Regions from separate parts of the Homo sapiens genome. Here region 2 is linked to region 1. The links come from fine-mapping of genetic effects on gene expression. Tissue or cell type: monocytes after LPS. Region 1 holds a variant in brackets; the other region holds the start of a gene. All regions are shown on one strand. Distances are between the middles of the regions.

Region 1 (5,152 bases):
ATTGCCCAACTGACAACATCTCTGGCTGATACTGCCTCAGAGAAACCAAACGGCTCCAGCACTGTGAATCTGAGCAGAAAAAAGCATACTCATCAAAAGTATGGCCTCCACCTTGCTTCTACCTTCCAAGCTCCATTTGTATCTGATTGAAGGAAACCAAACTGCACCTGGCTGCAAGGGGTAAACTTATCTGCAAGAAATTCAGAAAATGTACATTTTAGCTTTAAAGCTTCTGTAGTATAAGAAGATAGAGTAGAGCAGTGGATTTCAAACTATGGGTTGCAACCTATTAGCGAGTCATGATATCCATTTATTGAGTTATAAATGGCATTTTGAAAAGTGAAATAGAACATAAGTTATCAGTATGCCTAGCAAGATTAAGTATTATTGCATAAAATATATACATTTTTATGATTCATAGATATTTTATATATACATATATATTTGTAGGTGGGGAAGTATGACACGATGAATATGTAAAATGCATTTCTTACTGTGGGTTATGATAAAAAAAAAAAGGCTGAAGGCCAAGGTACCAGGAAGGTGAAGAGATGCTGTGTGCCAGTTTACCATATCTACTATAGTATCTCTTATTTTATTAAGGAAGCATCCTTTTATTCCTACTCTGCTAATAGCTTTTATTTTGAATGGATGTTGAATTTCATCAAATAATGTTTATTTTTCTATTGAGGTAATCATAAGCTCTTTCTCCTTTGATGTACTACATTGATGGATTTTCCACAATGCATTGTCTTTGCATATTCCTCATTCTAAAAGTATTTTGATAGTTAACTTTTGTGTCCATCAGTCTACAACTTTCCTACAACCCCTGTCCCACATATTACTTAACTTTACTAGCAGGTTCTGCATTTGCCCAACTTGTCAAAGCTACTACTGTAGATTTTGAGACATTCTGGGAGAACAAAAAAAAGGTCTATGTTTTATGATTCTTTATTACATTCACAAGAAGCCAAAATATCTGCATTTTATTTAGCTTAAAAATGTAATCATTTATAGATATTTTTCCAATTTAAGAACCAATGATAAAGCATTTGTATGGAGAAGTCCTAATGTGAAGCTGGTTTTTAATTCTGATACAGTAGTGACAATTATTTCAATATGTATTTGTTATGAATATAAATCACCTACTAAAAGTATCTTCATCAATTTGCCCACCATAAAAATATCTGTCTGATTTATGGTTACCTAAACAGTGTCTCAGAAACTCATTTTCTTCATTTATTTGCCTCATTTTGTTTATTTGCTCATTTTTAAATACTAAAGAATATCTGCATTGCTTGAAAGTAGCCAAATAACAAGTATTGGTTTTACTGGGCTGTGGTTGTAACTCACAAAATCAGAAAATTTCAACATGGTTTCTTTCAAAATATTTGTGAGGTGTAAATATTTTGGACAAGCTGCTAATGTGAACTTTCACCCTGGAAACTCTGGGGTTTCTTATATATCTTACATTTATTTTTCTTGCTTTATTTTAGGAAAAAAAATTTTTAATTTTGAATAGAATTAAAAAAACAGGATACTTTTTACAAACCATCCGCACAACCAAAATACATTACCTGTCAATGAAAAGTTTTCCAATAATTTAATCAATGCAAATATACACATATACACATTCTCTACATCAATAGTATTCAACAGTTTTTATCAAAAGGAGAAAATTTTGATTTTATAAAGGCAGTGGAAATAAAAAACAGTAATTATTAAGTTTTGCTCAAGGACCATCTAGAAGGAAAATTTAGTGACACATCTGAAATAAGCAACTGATGGCCAGCCTAGCCTTATTAAGTAACACATATTCAAATTGTAGATCTCCCCCTCCTATCTTCCACCCCATAGCTAAGAAAGGAAACCCAGGGATAGAACTAATTGAACTCTATTAGCCAGAGGCAATCGAACCCAGTGCCAATAGAGAGATGGACTCCCAATTAGTCTTCAAATGGAACAAAGTCATAACACTGGTTTTCTTTCGATGTTGGACGTATGGGTGATACGTTTCTAAATTTATAGTTTCCAAATTTTCTGTAATGAGATATATTACTCTTATAATACAAAGAAAGCTCCAACTAATCAAAAATTATATATATGTTAGTTCACTGTTTTAAATGCCCAACCACCATTTAAGAATAACTTTTAAGTGTCTTTGTAAGTTCTTCCTCTCTTCCTATTCTGATGTTGAGAAGGGGTCTATTTTCCAGAGAAAGTTAAGCAGGACTTGACAATTTGGGAGTTTGGGTCAGATTTGCTTGGAGTTTGTAAAAATTATACTGGGAGGAGTTCCACAATCTCCCTGATGGCTAGAAACAGTAATATTTACTAGGTTCTTACTGTGTCTACGCCAATGTTCTGGGCACAGCAGGGAAAAATAAACAGTAGTAGAGATGGCCTCTGTTTATGAAGAGCCCAACTAATAATCAAGGGCATAAAAGACATAAAAATAACAATTACAAAGGTACATACTGATACAGTGGAAACCAGAAGTCAGTGTGCAAGAAAACATGACAGTATTTGGAGCCAATTGGGGTGATGCTTCCAGCACTTCCAGAAGCAGCCACAGTGACGTCTTCTATTTACCTCTAATTCAATTTCTTTTTCTCCAAGAGGTTAGTAGAAATGGAAATTCTGAAAACACAGAAATTTTCCTCACTGGGAAAGTGACCTAAATCAATGCTGCCTAAGCTTGTTGACTCCAGGTTTATATTCCTATTTGAGATAGTATTCAAGTTTCATGAGAAAACATGTTTTCAAGACATGATTTTAGGAAATCAAATACAAGATTCACTTGAAAGTTGGTAGCACTTAATGAAAAACCAAGGTTTCCCATGAAATTACTGAACCTTCCATTTTGATTAAACAGATTGGGGCTGATCTAGGACAAGAAGTTCTTAAATATTGTCCAAATCCCTCATGGCACAATGCTGAAAGCAAAACAAACAAAAATTTATCAAAGATAATTTCATTTTCTCTCTTATTAAAAACTGCACCTTTTTTTT[C/TC]CTCCAGGTGCTCAACATGTCACTGTTTAACTGCCCTCTACTTAAAGCTTTCTCATTTACTATGCATGATTTTGAAGTACTAGAATCTCAGATGGAAATTTTTCTGGATGTGCATATTAGTGGGAAAGGAAGAAATCATACAATATAGTATCCAAGGGAGCTGACAGGCAGCCAGAGCTACACCCCTGACTCTGAGTAAACCGCTTTGGTATATCTGGCTTTTCCTAATGAATCATCTGTGGGACTCAAGGCACCAGCAGCCCAAGTCAATCAGCAGGCTGGGAACCAAGCTGAGGACTCATATTTCATCAGCTAAGAAAAAGCTGGAGGGTCTCGGGACACACAGATGACCTCTGGGTGCTTTTCCCTGGACACAAAATGAAAATGCTGATGTTAACCTGTACCAGAAGATTCCTGAGGAGCAACTGATAGGGGCAAATGTCCAACATGGTATAAGGATTAAATCTTAATAATAGCTTATCTTACCCCACCAAAATGGTGAGAAATTTTACATATCTGCCTTTATTTAGATCATGATGAAGGAAAAGCGACATGATGAAATCTCTAGAAACAAATGAGCCTACCACTTTGGAATGTGGGTTTGGGCTGTTCTGCCAGATGTTATGATTCTGAGTAGAACTTAAATTCTAAACAAATTAACAACTATTCTCTCAATGCAGTGATGTTGTCTTTCATGAAATCTCTTCTCCAACTTCTGTGCCTAAAAACATCAGTCCATGCCAGGTACCATCTATGTACATTCAAGCCAAGCCTCTATTTTTACAACTCTCTTAGGAGTCATGGAAGAACCTGCCTTAGCCAGAGGCATAAAAGACGATCCTTTGCTTCTTAGGGGGAATCTGGGGCTCTTCACTTGATCATCTGAGTCTCTTCATCTGCATCATAAAATTCTTCCTCTTCCTCACTCTCACTCCCTAAAGAGCTCTCCTTGTCCACACACTGAAACAGGAAAGAAGAAAAGGGCAGTGAAATGATGTTATGACATTTCTGAAATGGAAACTACCATCTAGCTATTCAACTGACAAATGTATTTATATGACATTCATTCCCCCAAGAAATAGCCCCTAAAATATTCTAGGAAAGCTAATGAATCATCGATCATCCTTATTTCTCTGAAAATCAGCTGCTGTTAGATCCCACTTTTGTTTTCCAGCAGTTTTACTCAGTTCTATTTAATTTAACGCAAACCTTCTTTTTTTCATTAACTGCCACTATCCAAGCGGTATAATAATTAAGAAAAATATCACACCTGTTGGGGGTCCAAAGCCTGTAAAGATAATGCTTCTTCTCCCAGCCTGCGATACGAATACACCTGAAGGTCGGAGAATGTTTCTAGCAGCGGACTGTTAAGGGTCTCCGGCAATAACAAACTCAGGAGGCCGGAGGTCAGACCCGTGGCTCCGAAGACAATGAATGGTAAAGACCATTGCACATATTTCTGCAGAGGCGGGGAGTGGAATGAAAATAAACCAGAGAATTAGTTTCCTTAGCATGTAATACAAGCAGTCTCATGACTGAAAAACTGTCATGTTTACCACCTAGTTCATGACCTCGCACTAGACAACACTATAAGCCACTTCTTTCCACATAAAGAATTATCCTGGGAAATCAGAGAATGATTCCTCAGGCATGTAGAGATGGGAGTGAGTAAATAAAAGGACAGCACTAGTCTGTACATTAGAAGCAGCAATTTCATGTCCGGGGTGGGTACTGTAGGAGAAGAGGCCAGGCTGCCTCTGAGCAGGCAGGCCTATATGGCCAGAGCTGACAGGACATCTTGTAGTTCAGCTTCCATTCCAGGTGAGCACACTTTGCACAGAGGCATCCCAAAATACTTGCTGATGATGAACTTTAAAGTTCTTAATCCTGGAATTGGCCAAACCATCCTATATACCTTAAGACCGTAACTGAGAGTTCCAGGGATTAAAGGTGTAAAAACTCTTTTAAAAAACCAACCCTACGACATACATATGGCTTATAAACTTCTAAACTGAACATGGTTAAGGGCTGGTGATACAAGCAATTGTTTCAGAGATCCAAAACATATTCTCAGGAAAACGGAAACATTTCATCACAAAGAGATTCAAAGAAAACATGAAAAACAGTTGCTTCCAGGGTGT
Region 2 (5,152 bases), 92 kb after region 1:
TTTTAAAAGCAGAAAAACCCCCTTTCATTTAAGGCAACTGTGTAAAAAGGGCTTCTTACTCTGCTGGGGGAAGCAAAACCTCATCCCCAAGAATGATGAAATCACCTGTGATACAACTGAGCAATGGGACTCCACAGTACTCCCACTCCACAGACCAGCTGCCGTAATACAAAACATCTCCAACAACAGACTTGGTAGAGAGGTCTTTGGGGATATCCACTCTCATACCCAGGGTAGCTCTGGGTGGCTCTACAACCCCCTGGATCATGTATCTCAATGGGGTAACTGAGTCCTTAAAAACACGTAGCATGTGAAGGATTCACTTTTGCCTAGGCTGGCATCTCCTCCACTGGTATAAGCACAGCTACAGGGCATCTTCCCACCCACATCTATAAGATAAACAATCAGTCACTCATCCCCAACACTCTAAGACCTGGTCCTTGTACCGCAAATACTGACCATAAATCATCCAAGGTTTAGTGAACGGTCATAGGCATGGGCTTGGAACTTTTTGATAGCAAACTCTAACTAACTGGGTCAACCATAAATAAAAGTAAGTTAGAGAAACTTAACAGGTCCTAAACCGAGAACACTGGCCTTTTTAGAACCTCACTCTACTGAAGACAAACTTACTCCAAGTTAGTGGATACTTGGCTAGGCAAATAAGAAAATGATAACAGGAAGTGAAGGGTAGGGATAGAGGGATGGGGAGCTGGGATTGTTCAAGAAAGGATGTATGTTCCTGGAATTCATGGCTGGAACAGAAAAAAAGGGTTTTCTCAAAGAAACTGTTATAAATAAAGATCAGGCATCATGGTTGCAATTCTTCTTTCTCGGTATTAAATACTCTTATCATTTAGCTTGAACGTTTTTTCTCCCTGGGGAAAGCTTGTTTAAAGCTAAAACAACGAGCTTAAAAGAACTTCAGAATACCACATATTCGTGAGCTGAGAACTGTTCGGCTAGAAAAAGAACTGACTCCATCATTTGAACCGTTTCTGGCTGATGATGAAATCAACTGAACTTCCAAACATTTTAATCAATAAGTCAACCCCTACCTTCCCCCATCTTCCTGTTGAGCCACTGTCTTATGCAAGCTTTAAGCAACTTGTGGACTGGTGGCTATATCCATGACCACTCTGTACTTCCTGCAGAATAACTATCATCACATGCTAACTAAATTACTTAACTGTCTGCCTGCCCCACCCGCAGCCACTGGAATGCAAGCTCCTGAGGGCAGTCAATGATTTGTCCACCATGGCATCCCTATGTTCAGCACATCCTAGCCCGTATTAAACCTGATGACTGAAGGAAAGAGTAAAATGGCTGGCTCACAGCAAATACTAAGAAAGGATTTGTGAATGAAATGCCTCTGGCATATTGAGAGAAGCGACTAATGTCAAATGAGCCATTTAAGTTGGTGAAGGACTAATCCTTGCCTGGCGCAGTTAATCTGTAGTGACCTTTCGCATATGGAATCGATATTTTGAGGCTGGGGTGTACAAGTAGGTTCTGAGAATTCTTTATAATGAAGAAGTGATTCCATTTGATAACCACACATGGTAGATGGCACTATTCGGCTCACGGGAGTCTCAGCCCAAGGCTGGCGCAGGGCCGAATGAGCCAGCAGAACTTAAACCAGAGGGAAATAAATCCTATGCTTTGAAAGCCCCTAGAAGAGTAAGCCCCCTCAAGCCCAGGAAAAGAGGCAGAGGACACCCGGCGCAGAGGGAGGCGATCCTAGACACAACCTTTTGTCTGCAGATTATCAAGACTGTGTCCTAGATTCCAAGGTGACAGTGCCACAGGTAGGGTAACAATTCCCTTCATATTTGCAGCGTGTTATAGGCAACAGCGTAGGGCAGGTAACACAATTTTGCATCCCTCCTTAACCAGCATAGCGGCTGAGAAACCTCCCCCAACACGCTCCTTCCACCACTCAAGGTGGCGGGGTGGAGGGCCCAGCAGAACCCAAGAGGCTCTGAGGCCGGCCGGCGACCTTGACGCTGCCGGCCGGGCCCAGGCCACCGCGCGGCGCCTCGCCCCTGCCCCACCCCGACGCTCGCCACACCTCGGTGTTTGCAGAGCCTCGGCCTCGGCCCCGGCCCCGGCGGTCTGGGAGCGGACGCCTAGCCCTGCGCCGGGCGGCCCTGAAGAGGGAAATGCGGCTGCGGGGCCGCGGGGACTTACCTGCAGCAGCACGGCCAGCAGGAAGCACAAGTACATCTGGTAGATGCCCATCTCCCCCACCGCCTGGAACGCCTCCTCCACCTCCATGGCGGGCCGCGCGCAGGAACCCCGCCACCCCACCGCCCTCTCAGGCGCTGCCCTCCCGCCCAGCGCGGCAACCCCTGGGCGCCCGGCACCGGCTTGGACCCGCCGGGGCGGGGATGGAAGCGCTGGCGGCGGGGCCGGGGCGGGCCGGGCCGGGGCGGGGCGCCTGCGCGGGCGGCGGGGCTGTCAGGCTCGAGAGGTGGACGCCGGGCGGGGAGCGGGGAGCGCAGCCGGGCTACGCGGGGCGAGGGGCGAGGAGGGCGTTCGAGATCCGGGGCTGGATGCCCTGGACCCGGGCCTCTGGACTTCCTGTTTAAAAAAAAAATGGTGTTTTGGTGTACGTTTTGTTTTGAGAGGGACCGCTGTCTGCGCCTTAAAGTGAGGAAAGAGGAAGTGGGCCGGGCTGAGGGCCTGAGAAGAAACATCGGGACCGCGTCCGCGTGTGACCCAGGGCTCTGCCTACAGGGGACCCGCAGCTGGCGGGCGGCCTGGCGGCTCTCAGCAATGCCTGTCGTTTTGCCCAAACCAGTTTAATGCGGGGGCTTGGGGAGCCCTAGAGCCTTCAGAGAAAAGTGCTGTCTGTGCAGCATTTCTTTCCAGTCCTATTCTGTGCTAGCCATGGGTTAAGTACACTGGTAGGCAAGCAAATTCTTGTAAAACCGTCGGATACATTTGCTTATAGAAGTATGCACGAGGTACAAAGGAAGTGCAAAAGACGAAGGGGCAGGATGTGATGGCTGCCAAGGTATTTAAAGGATAAACGGCAGTTTGTCAGGTGGAAATTAAAAAAAAAAAGCGTGGCAGGGCCAAGGGACGCTGGACACCTGCGTTAGTCCCCTCATGCCTCCACCTCCTAACCTCATTTGCCTTTTTGTTTATTATGTGTTGTCTTTTTAACAGCTGCATAGTATTCCATTGTCTAGACCATGACTTCTAGTTTAACATTGAATAGAAATGGCGACCAGCTAGTGTCCTTGACCTGCCAGTATCCTTCTTATGCTTCCAAAATTTTCCGTTAATTGTGATGTCTGTTGCAGCGTATTGGTAGCTAGGCTTTACTGGTCAGCTGCTTTCTTTTTTTAGCAATTAAATGAATGCTCACTGTAATTGAATTTATCAGTGGGTTGGAAACTGTAAACTCTATAAACTCTTAAGATTTTTTTCTCTCTCTTACTTAAGGAAACGTTTTCTGTATAAGTACTATTAATAGTTTAAAAAGTTTCCTTCTTTGGCTGTTTCCTACGAATCCTCATTATTAATAAATGCTGAAGTTTAATAAGTGCTTTTTGCATTTATTGACATGATCCTATTGTTTTTCTTCTTGAATCTGATAATCGGGTACATTATGGTAATAGTTTTTTTGATATTGAACTTTACTGGAATAAATCCTATTAATACTTGCTCACGATATTGCTATTTATTGCCAAATTTAATTTGCTAGTGTTTTGTCTAGGGACTTTACATCTGTGACTAGCGAACTAGGCCTATAATTTTCTTTTCTTCCTGATGCTTATGTCTAGATTTGGCAGTAAGATTTTATAGTGCTTTCATAACATGAGTGTGAGTGTTTGGTAAAACTCTCCTGCAACCATCTAGACTTAGCTTGTTTTGCAGGGGGAGCCTCTTTATTACAGATTTATAGATAATGGGTAAAGATAAATAGGTGTGTATAACTAGATATATTCGTATGTCTTTGCATTTCTTCTTGAACCACTTTTTTTCTAGAAATGTTTCTATTTTATCTAGTTTAGAAATTGTTTTTGGAATAAACTAGTTCATATTGTTTTCTTGGGATTTTTAAAAATAAGGGTCTAACTGTTTATGTCCCATTTTTCATTCTGAATAGTGTTCATCTTTATTGTTCCAATCTTATCAGTCTTGCCAGAGGTTTGTCTACTTTATTATTTTTTAAAAAGTTTTGTGAATTTTTTTATTTCATTGATTATATGAATTCTTTCCTTTTTTTTTTTTTACTTTTGTTACTTTGTAATTCTTTTACTAGCCACATGACTTGAAGTTTAGCTTCTTTGCTTTTAATATTTCTTTTTGAAGAATAATTATGTGTGGCTGGGCTCAGTGGCTCACGCCTGTAATCCCAGCACTTTGGGAGGCCAAAGCTGGTGGATCACCTGAGGTTAGGAGTTCAAGTCCAGCCTGGCAAACATGGTGAAACTCCGTCTCTACTAAAAATACAAAAATTAGCCGGACGTGGTGGCACAGGCCTATAGTCCCAGCTACTCAGGAGGCTGAGGCAGGAGAATCACTTGAACCTGGGAGAAGGAGGTTGCAGTGAGCTGAGATTGTGCCATTACACTCCAACCTGGGCAACAGAGCAAGACTCTGTCTCAGAAATAAATAAATAAATAAAATAATTATATTTAAGGTTGTACTTACCTTTCTATAGGACTTTGCTCCATCCGACAAGTTTTGTCATGTGGTACTTTTGTTGTCTTTACTTTTAAATATTTCATGACATTGTCATTTCTTCTTTAACCAATGAGCTATTTTTAGTGCATTTTTTGTTTCCAATTAAAGGTTGCTATTTTTTTTACCATCTTTTTAGTGTTGTTTATAATTTATATGCTTTGTAGACAGAGATTATATTAAATCTTGGAAATTGTTTTAATTTTTTGTGACCTAATATGTGATTTTTCTCTTTTTATTCTTTTTTTTTTTTTTTTGACAGTATCTTTCTCTGTCACCCAGGCTGCAGTGCAGTGGCTTGATCACATCTCACTGCAGCCTTAATCTCCCCAGCTCAGGTGATCCTTCCACCTCAGCCTCCCAGGTAGGTAGAACTATAGGCAGACACCACCATGGCTCATTTTTATTTTTTGTAGAAATGGGGTTTTGCCATGTTGCACAAGTTGATCTCAAA

Alleles and levels. Positions count from the first base shown, and alleles are read on the strand shown. Sizes are in standard deviations (SD) of each study's normalised expression.
As copies of C replace TC in region 1, the expression in monocytes after LPS of the gene that starts at base 2,392 in region 2 goes up (small effect, 0.34 SD a copy in Fairfax 2014).

What was found. PIP is the estimated chance that this variant, and not a neighbour inherited with it, causes the effect.
Region 2: SLC22A15 starts here. The variant in region 1 is fine-mapped to the expression of SLC22A15 in monocytes after LPS (Fairfax 2014, PIP 0.90).

What each region holds. Positions count from the first base shown.
Region 1 is chr1:116,065,838-116,070,989 of GRCh38, reverse strand. It overlaps SLC22A15 (solute carrier family 22 member 15), which reads right to left. Exons shown (of 12, transcript NM_018420.3): 11 at 4,282-4,470; 12 at 936-3,971. The coding sequence ends at 3,882. Among named protein-coding and RNA genes, the nearest start is that of MAB21L3, 43 kb to the left of the region's middle. RefSeq lists an enhancer at 3,091-4,290. The variant C/TC (reference allele first, on the strand shown) is at 3,012.
Region 2 is chr1:115,973,753-115,978,904 of GRCh38, reverse strand. It overlaps SLC22A15 (solute carrier family 22 member 15), which reads right to left and starts at 2,392. Exons shown (of 12, transcript NM_018420.3): 1 at 2,191-2,392. The coding sequence starts at 2,277. It overlaps LOC101928977 (a long non-coding RNA gene), which reads left to right and starts at 1,629. Exons shown (of 5, transcript NR_125970.1): 1 at 1,629-1,808. RefSeq lists silencers at 2,006-2,255, 2,316-2,545.